Homo sapiens: one gene and its partners. The protein of the gene in region 3 purifies or fractionates together with the protein of the main gene of each other region. This does not show direct contact. Each region holds a gene or a part of one and is shown on either strand. Other genes may lie near its edges.

Region 1 (3,076 bases), on a different chromosome or scaffold from region 3:
CATTTAATAGTGCCTCAAAACCTTTCTGCCTTACTTTATGGGAGATGTTTTACCTGTTTATCCTCCTCTGTGTGTGCTGGATAGTCCTTGGCTTTCATTAGCCAGAAAGCAGCAAGCTTTTTGTTGTGTAGTTTCAAGTATGTCTTTCCTAAAAGAAGTAAGTTTTTGCTGTAGAAGTTTGGATCCACTGCACATAAGAAAGAAAAAATGATCTCAGAGGAAACAGTGTTGCTTTTATTTTTAAAGGTTTGTTTCTGAGGTCTAAATTTCAATAAATTTGTGTGGTCAATAAGTGATTAGACTAATGGGAATTCTCTTTTGTTCAACTGTTTATATCTCAAACAAATATTTGTAAAATAATAATTACCAATGAATAAACATCTACAAATGTGCTAGGCACTGCATTATACACATTTCTCATTTTCACAACTTTGTAAGTAGGTATCTCCATTTTATAGATGAGAAGCTGAAGCTCCCGATAGAATGTATGCTATTTGAGGACAGCAATACTCTTTTTAATCTCTTTAGTTCCCTATGGTACCCCACGTGCCTACAACAGTGTGTGAAACATAACATACATTCAGTGTACATCGGCTGAATAAGTGAATGAAATGATGATGACATATATATATTTGATCAACATTTACTGGATGTCAGCTATACTTAAACATAGAGGATGAAACAAAACCTCTGTTTTTTTCAACTTTATAATGAAGAGAGAAACATGAACACAACTAAATGTAATATAAAAATGAAAGGAATGCTTTACTAGATATACAAACTTTGAACTGCTACAAGAAACCAAAAAAAAAAGTGGAGAACATTCTTGGCTGAAAGAAAAGCATAAACAGAAAGCCTATGAATGAAAACATGGAATTATCTCACCAACTTAATTCTTCACAAAGTGTCCCCCTAACAATCTGAGATCCTCTGTATTCAAAGCATACTTTTTCCTGTATACAATTAATGATTAACTCCATTTGCTCCTTAACCAAAATTGTTTTACTTCTTTTATTTGAGCAGATTTGTGTGATGCCATGTTGATATACTTAAGTTGTCCTGGGGTTAAATATATTCGTATATTCAATCATCCGATCATTCATCTATTTACTCAGTCATTCAACAGATTTGCCAAGCATTGTGCCAAGTAATGAGTGTGCAATTGTGAGCCAGAAAAGACAAAGTCCACATCTTCTCAGAATGTACAGTCTTACACATGTAAATGTTCATAGTATTGAGTGATAAGTATCACTGGAAAAATAAAAGATACTAAGGGCATCAGAGGAGCCTCTGAACTGAATATAGGCCAGAAAGAAATAAGGTAAGGTCACTCAAGAATGACTGAAGTTACCAGGGATTATTTTAGCTCCATGAGGGTAGGACCATGTTTTTCTCAACACCCCCAACCCTTAAGTCTCTAAGGTCCTATATTTTTACTTTGTAATTAACTTTTAAATCTGTTAAAAAAAGTCATCCCTAGATTCATATTCATGATATGTGAAACAGTATGATCAAGAGAGGGTATCAGTGAAGGTAATAATGAATAAATCAGAATTGATGAATTACAGAGATAAAACATTCAGATAAAATTCTGTAGAAGATAACTGTTATCATGAAATGAACAAGTCCATTATGTGTGGGATCTCAAATTTAATAAACATGGTATGTCTTCTCCTGATTAAGTTTTATAGAATATATTTCAATGGTTTTTATGGTCTATTTGGTATCATATGCTTATGTCTCTTATCTCCCCCACTTGGTGTATGAATATTAAAAAGGATAAATTTAGGATGGGCTGGTGGCAGTTTCATAGGACTAGTCATTTTTTCAAAACAAACATAACCCGAAACTCTTTTTCACAATATCTGCAATAGAACTAGCCTGGCTGAATAGCAGAATTCCCATTTAAATGCCTCTAATGAGATGCATAATCTTTTTTTGTTTTTTTCAGACAAGTCTCACTCTGTGGCCCAGGCTGTAGTGCAGTGGTGCAATCACAGCTCATTGTAGCCTGGAACTCCTGGGCTCAAGTGACCTTCCTGCCTCAGCCTCCTGAGTAGCTGGGACTACAGGTGTGTGCTACCACACCTGGCTAATTTTTATTTTTATTTTTTGGTAGAGATGAGGTCTCGCTATGTTGCCCAGGCTGGTCTCAAACTCCTGGGTTCAAGTGATCCTTCTGCCTTGGCCTTCCAAAGTGCTGGGATTACAAGTGTTAGCCACCACATCTGGCCAATATGTGCAGTCTTGAATAAGACAATTACCATGTCAGAGACTGCTCTCACAAAGGAAGCAGAATTACATCAAATGATAGACATTCCAGAACTGCAGCTCTAAGTTCAATAGCAGCCTATTTCTCATTCAGGTGATCTTTACTGAATAAAGACTTTAAAAATTGTTTTACAGTATCTAGCACAAAAATAAGTATAACAGAATAAACAACTGCTTTAGACATTGCTATTATAGTATATATTCAGCATTCATACAATTTTAACTATATTAATATGTGTAATCAAAAATACCTTACCTTGTTCTGCCCTGTGAAAGTAGCCTAAGGCCTGTCAAAAACACAAAGAGCCCAAACATAATAAAAAAGATTAAAGAAGACAATATTAAAAAAGCATTGTCTCAAAGATCTACTGCTATATTATATTTAAGTCAGGAAGTAAATCATCTTAAAATAATGGTCACTTCTTCAACAGTGAGAGTTAACACCCAAAGTGAACGTAACACTTCAATCATCAAGATTACAATATATGGACTACTTCTGGTAATAACTTGGTTGCTGTTTAGAACTTGTACCAAACTAACATCATGTGCAGAAAGGAAAGAACATTATCACGTGTAACTCAGCTATTTTGACAGTTCTCTTAAATCATAACTAGTGATTTTTAGTAAAAACAAAATATAATCAAAAGCTGAATTTATTCGTTGTACTAGTGAATTTTTAAGAGTCCATTATTATTGAAATTCCTACATACAATGTTAAGTCTGAAACTCTTTTTGTCCTACTTAAGCTACTGTTTTTGTAATGCATTCTCTAATGACATTTGATTTCTAGAAACATAACTAATTT
Region 2 (3,657 bases), on a different chromosome or scaffold from region 3:
GCCTTCTTGAAATGTCAAAGTGCTGCCGCTCACTCCTAGGCCAGAGGATCTCTCAAGGTTAGCTTCGTGGAATGCAGAGGTGGTTTCACTCAGATCAGGGGACCCAGAATCTTCTCTGCTGGCCTCAGGGGCGGCAGATGCCCCGAACCCAGCTTCAGGATAGGCGGACGTCTCACTGCTAGATTCTGGGACTGATGATACTTCTACTCCAGACCCAGGGAGCACTGGGGTAGCTCCACTAATGTCCCCAGCTGTGGAGACTTTTCCACTGGACTCAAAAAGCTGGGGTGTGTGTGTCACAGGGGGCCTTTGGCCTAGTTCCTGAGAAATAGTTGGTTCAGTAACACCCTCCACGAACTCAGAAGTGATTAAAGTAACTTCTGGAAGTCCTGAGGCCTCTCCACTGGTGCCCATGGCTACAGAGGATTCTCCACTTACATTGGTGGTGCTGGCAAAATCCCCACTAAAATATGGAGTACCTGGTGGCTCTCCGCTGGGCTCTATCAGCCCGGACTGCAGCCCACTTAGGTCCAGAAATCCAGAATGCTCCCCAGACATGTCTGGTGCTCCAGAATGAGCACCACTGAGTTCTAAAATGCCAGAAGGCCCTTCTCCTGCCTCTTGGGCTGTTGGAGCCTGGGTTACAGATTCCACCAAAGTTCTGTCTACAAGAGAGACAGTGGGGAAACTAGATGGAGTTCCACTGCCATAATATGCTCCCGAGGGCAGGCTGCTCCCAATCTCAGCTCTGGAGGATTCTCCACTGACCTCAGCTATGCCACTTGGTAGGCCACTGAATTCCGGAGTCTGGGATGTAAACCCACTGGAATCGACTGTTCCAGAAAACTGTCCACTGACATCCACCATCCCAGATTTGCCTGACAGATCTGCCTCTCCGGAAGGGAGGCCACTGAGTTCCACAGACCCTAAGCCTTCTTCTTCTTTAAATGTAGTAGGGGCCACTTCAACCAAACTGGTGTCCACAAATGTAATCCCAGAAGATTCACCGCTGCCACTCGTGGTACCAGAAACCAGGTCAGGGACTCCTGATGTTGCCCCACTGAACCCTGGTAACCCTGAAGGCTGCCCACTGAGATCAGGGACCCCAGATGTTTCTCCACTCAGATCAGTTATGCCAAAGGGTTGACTAGTGCCATAAAGAACTCCAGATGCTTCTCCACTAATACCTGGTTGTCCAGAGGACAGCCCGCTAAGCTCAGTCACTCCAGATGTTTCCCCACTAGTGTCAGGAAACCCTGATGGCTGTCCACTGACACCAAAGAGTCCAGGTATTTCCCCACTGACATCAGGAGACCCAGATGCTTGGCCACTGAGTTCAGTTCCTGAAGGGAGTCCACTAGCTCTCCCACTAATGTCCAGCTCACTGGAGGGCAGTCCAGATATTTCTCCTGCACCACTGATGCCAATGGTTCCCCTCCCTTCCAGTTCACTTGCAGTGGAGGCTGTGACCACTTCCACCAATGTAGAATCCACTAGGGAAACAGTTGGGAATCCAGATGGAAGTCCACTAAAGTCAGGCAGGCCAGAGGGTGGGCCACTTCCAAGGTCCACCCCAGAATACTCACCACTAAATCCAGAGGGAAGACCACTTGTTTCTGGAGCTTGCCCACTTCCTAGAGTTCCAGAAGGCAGTTTGCCCAAGTCCAAGTCTCCAGAAGCTGACCCCACCAAGTCTTCTTTTCCAGAAGGCAACCCACTGAGGTCCTCAGCTCCAGAAGCTGAAGTCTCTAGACCCTCCCTTCCAGAAGGAAGCCCACTGAGGTCAGTCCCTACTTCAGAAGCAGAGGTCTCTAGACCTTCTCCTCCAGAAGGAAGTCCACTGAGGTCCCCAAATCCAGAGGCAGAAATCTCTAGAACTTCTTCTCCAGAAGGGAGCCTGCTGAGGTCCTCTACTCCAGAAGCAGAGGTCTCTAGACCTTCTCCTGAAGGAAGTTCACTGACATCCTCTATTCCAGAGGCAGAAGTCTCTACAACCTCTCCAGAAGGAAGCCCACTGATGTCCTCTACTCCAGAGACAGAAATCTCTAGAACTTCTCCTCCAGAAGGAAGTCCACTGAGGTCCCCTACCGCAGAGGTAGAAGTCTCTAGAACTTCTCCAGAAGGAAGCCCGCTGATCTCCTCTACTCCAGGGGCAGTAGTCTCTAGAACTTCTCCAGAAGGAAGCCCACTGATCTCATCTACTCCAGGGGCAGTAGTCTCTAGAACTTCTCCAGAAGGAAGCCCGCTGATCTCCTCTACTCCAGGGGCAGTAGTCTCTAGAACTTCTCCAGAAGGAAGCCCGCTGATGTCCTCTACTCCAGGGGCAGCAGTCTCTAGAACTTCTCCAGAAGGAAGCCCGCTGATGTCCTCTACTCCAGGGGCAGCAGTCTCTAGAACTTCTCCAGAAGGAAGCCCGCTGATGTCCTCTACTCCAGGGGCAGCAGTCTCTAGAACTTCTCCAGAAGGAAGCCCGCTGATGTCCTCTACTCCAGGGGCAGCAGTCTCTAGAACTTCTCCAGAAGGAAGCCCGCTGATGTCCTCTACTCCAGGGGCAGCAGTCTCTAGAACTTCTCCAGAAGGAAGCCCGCTGATGTCCTCTACTCCAGGGGCAGCAGTCTCTAGAACTTCTCCAGAAGGAAGCCCGCTGATGTCCTCTACTCCAGGGGCAGCAGTCTCTAGAACTTCTCCAGAAGGAAGCCCGCTGATGTCCTCTACTCCAGGGGCAGCAGTCTCTAGAACTTCTCCAGAAGGAAGCCCGCTGATGTCCTCTACTCCAGGGGCAGCAGTCTCTAGAACTTCTCCAGAAGGAAGCCCGCTGATGTCCTCTACTCCAGGGGCAGCGGTCTCTAGAACTTCTCCAGAAGGAAGCCCGCTGATGTCCTCTACTCCAGGGGCAGCGGTCTCTAGAACTTCTCCAGAAGGAAGCCCGCTGATGTCCTCTACTCCAGGGGCAGCGGTCTCTAGAACTTCTCCAGAAGGAAGCCCGCTGATGTCCTCTACTCCAGGGGCAGCGGTCTCTAGAACTTCTCCAGAAGGAAGCCCGCTGATGTCCTCTACTCCAGGGGCAGCGGTCTCTAGAACTTCTCCAGAAGGAAGCCCGCTGATGTCCTCTACTCCAGGGGCAGCGGTCTCTAGAACTTCTCCAGAAGGAAGCCCGCTGATGTCCTCTACTCCAGGGGCAGCGGTCTCTAGAACTTCTCCAGAAGGAAGCCCGCTGATGTCCTCTACTCCAGGGGCAGTGGTCTCTAGAACTTCTCCAGAAGGAAGCCCGCTGATGTCCTCTACTCCAGGGGCAGTGGTCTCTAGAACTTCTCCAGAAGGAAGCCCGCTGATGTCCTCTACTCCAGGGGCAGTGGTCTCTAGAACTTCTCCAGAAGGAAGCCCGCTGATGTCCTCTACTCCAGGGGCAGTGGTCTCTAGAACTTCTCCAGAAGGAAGCCCGCTGATGTCCTCTACTCCAGGGGCAGTGGTCTCTAGAACTTCTCCAGAAGGAAGCCCGCTGATGTCCTCTACTCCAGGGGCAGTGGTCTCTAGAACTTCTCCAGAAGGAAGCCCACTGAGGTCTCCTACTCCAGAGGCAGAGGTCTCTAGAACTTCTCCAGAAGGAAGTCCACTGAGATCCCCAACTCCAGAGGCAGAGCCCTCTAGGATCTCAGC
Region 3 (3,340 bases):
AGGGATTTTTCTATGGTACCAACATTTGAGAAAGTGAGGAAAAATGGAAAGAAGATGGGCATAGTCCCATCTTGGAATTCTACCTCTGCCACTTACCCAGGTGGGCAACACTGGAACACTTATCTGATCTTGTTAGAAATAACACATCTATCTTACCGTGTTGCATGAAGATTAAATTAAGTTGTGTAGAGCACTTCACACAATACTAGTACATAGTATGTCCTAAATAATGACTAATATCCTTTTGATTTTGCTGTCTTTCTAAATTACTCTACACTAGGAAGATCTCTGATTGGGCTAATGCTTAGAGTTGCAAGTTTGAAATAGAAAACAGTTTGTTTTGGCTATATATTCCCTAATATTAGAAAAAAACATTGAGGGGAACTTTCTGTATTAAGTGAATGTGAAATGTTGATATAGTTGATTATTATCTGGCAAAATAACCTAAACTGAGGTGATACATAAAAAGACAAGGAGAATACCTGACTAAATGTACAAAGATAAGGAAGAAAGAAAGGAAACTATTATGTTACCTTTTCAAATGACCACTATGTACTGGGCACTGTGGTTTCTATCTCAGCTTGGCACTGACAGGCCGTTGGCCTTTCTCCCATAGACCTCTCTTCCATCCTTTACTCATGCAATGTATACCTTCAAATGTGCCTACTTCTGTATCCTTCTTTGTTTCAGAGAAAGAAGTAGCCCTGCTCTTACGAATAATCTCTACCCACCAAATCTAATGTACTCCGTCATCCCTTAAGCATCGTAAATTCCTTTAGCATTTTGGTCTGTCAGAGAGTATCCTTCCTCCTAACCACATATGTTTAAAATGAGGAATCACATATGGCCACATAGTGAATTTTCCACTGGAAACAACAAGAGGGGTTTAGCTGTGTTAGCCTGACTGTGTATTGTGTGACAGTCAAACAGCACCAACCCTTACCTTGGCTGCTTTTCAGAAACAACAAAGAACATGTGGAGCTTCAGAGTTGGCGAGTATGGTCTTCTTTATGAAAACGTTTAACCCTACTAGAGGTTATATGAAACTGGCAGAATTAACAAACATCATATGCATAAAATATATTGTAATATTTTCTGACAGCAATACCTTTATTCAGCATGGCCAGAAAACCAATTTTCATCATGTAGAGATGTTCAAATTCAATAGATTATTTTGCAGACATTATTACTTTATATGTGAATCAATGTTTCCTGCTTGATTTTTTCATTTAGAAAGCCTTATCTGTGAATCATGGTTTTTCTCTTCTACCAAGCTCTGCCAAAGATTAATGGCAGAGTTATCCTGGTAGGAAATGGTGGATTTCAATTTCCCATTGGAATCTATACTGCTTAAGTTGAAGAATGTCCCTGAAGACCACATAAGTGCATAAGCAGTCCAAATGCATCAGATCAAACTTCATCCAGAAGATAAATGAAAAATAAAGAGAGGAGAAAGAGAAAGTGTGGAAATATCAAATGAGGGGCAGGATTGTACCCAAGAAAAAAAAAGCTCTGTAACACTATTTTTCTTCTAAAAAAAAAAAAAAAAAAAAAGATGTTAGAATCTCCCATCATATTTCTTTTTCTCTTTAATCTTCTTCACAGTCCTCCAGAGCACTGTGATGGCCACACACCATAACAGAGATAACAGAGGCAGATGATGATCATGACAGCAGAGTAACATGGTGAGTCCCAAGTAGTTGATGTCAGGGAAGACCATGAGACTATATGGGGCCAGGCACAGTGGCTCACGCCTGTAATCCCAGTACTTTGGGAGGCCAAGGCAGATGGATCAGTTGAGGTCAGGATTTTAAGAACAGCCTGGTTAACATGGTGAAACCCCATCTCTACTAAAAACATAAAAATTAGCCTGGTGGTGGTGGTGGCCTGAGGTGGGAGAATCGCCTGAGCCTGGGGGGTGGAGGTTGCAATGAGCCGAGATTGCACCACCTCACTCCAGTCTGGGCGACAGAGTGAGACCCTGTCAAAAAAAAAAAGAAAGAAAGAAAGAAAGAAAACGAAAGAAAGAAAGAAGGAAAGAAAAAGAAAGAAAGAAAGAGAGAAAGAAGAAAGAAAGAAAGGAAAGAAAGAAAGAAAGAAAGAAAGAAAGAAAGAAAGAAAGAAAGAAAGAGAAAGAAAGAAAGAAAGAAAGAAAGAAAGAAAGAAAGAAAGAAAGAAAGAAAGAAAGGGAAAGAAAGGAAGGAAGAAAGAAAAAGAGAGAGAGAGGGAGGGAGGGAGGGACAATATGGGCTTCTTTGTGGCTATGGAGTTTGCCAACTGTGCCACTTTTGAACTCATTTCTTCCTCCCTCATCTAGATCTTGTCAAAAAATAAATGTAGGACACAAATCTAAGCCATAAAGGAGAAAATAATAAGAGATATATATGAGGAGGTAACACAGCAGGATGAGTTGGCCCGGAATTTTTAGTTTGAAGACTTACATATTAAATTCTGTGACCTTAATTGTTCCTTATCTGGATACACCAAAGAAAGGCTGGATATTGGATATATGATTGAGCTAGAATTATTCTTTGTTTGAAGTAGAGGGATATTTTGTGGACATTTTTTTTTTTTCCAAGACAGAATCTGGCTGTCTTGCCCAGGCTTGAGTACAGTGGCACGATCTCGGCTCACTGCAACCTCTATCTCCCAGGTTCAAGCAATTCTCCTGGCTCAGCCTCCTGAGTAGCTGGGATTACAGAAGTGCGACACCACGCCTGGCTAATTTTTGTATTTTTAGTAGAGATGGGGTTTCATCATGTTGGCCAGGCTGGTCTCAACTCCTGACCTGGTGATCCGCCCACTTCGGCCTCCCAAAATGCTGGATTTACAGGAATGAGCCACAGCGCCCGGGCGACATTTTGTTTTTTTAATGGAGCCAGATGCAATATCTGTGTTGTGCAGCCCAGGTATTTAAACACTTGAGCACACATCAAACACAGGAACAGCTTTTTACTTACTCTCAAGTTGATTGACCTCCAGGTAATAGTTTTCAAGGTTTTCATTGACAGTTGGTATGTTTTTAAGCTTGTTATAGGACAGATCCAGCTCAACCAGGGATGACACATTGAAAGAATTTCCAGGTATTCCACTATCAGCCAGTTCGTTGTGAGATAAACGCAGATACTGCAATGCATTAAAACGCTTGAAATACTCATCAGGGATGTTGCTGATCTTATTGTTGTCTAAGTAGAGAGTTAGAAGAGAGACAGGGAGACCAGAAGGCAGTCTGGCTATCTGATTGAAGCTCAAGTCAAGGTATTCGAGTGATTTAAGACCTTTAAAAGCAGCTGAAACAGCATCCTCTTTCAGCCGATTGTGCTGGAGATGGATGAAGGTC

What was found.
Region 1: the proteins of LUM (region 3) and RMDN1 purify together in Homo sapiens (co-immunoprecipitation; one large-scale study listed by IntAct). This does not show direct contact.
Region 2: the proteins of LUM (region 3) and ACAN purify together in Homo sapiens (co-purification; one study listed by BioGRID). This does not show direct contact.

The regions. Positions count from the first base shown.
Region 1 is NC_000008.11:86,474,767-86,477,842, forward strand, and holds part of RMDN1 (regulator of microtubule dynamics protein 1), read right to left. Parts: intron 2,559-3,076; coding exon 2,528-2,558; intron 831-2,527; coding exon of another isoform or gene 769-830; exon of another isoform or gene 628-768; intron 188-627; coding exon 54-187; intron 1-53.
Region 2 is NC_000015.10:88,855,406-88,859,062, reverse strand, and holds part of ACAN (aggrecan core protein isoform 3 precursor), read right to left. Parts: coding exon 1-3,657. UniProt on the Homo sapiens protein: This proteoglycan is a major component of extracellular matrix of cartilagenous tissues. A major function of this protein is to resist compression in cartilage. It binds avidly to hyaluronic acid via an N-terminal globular region.
Region 3 is NC_000012.12:91,105,158-91,108,497, forward strand, and holds part of LUM (lumican precursor), read right to left. Parts: coding exon 2,961-3,340; intron 1-2,960.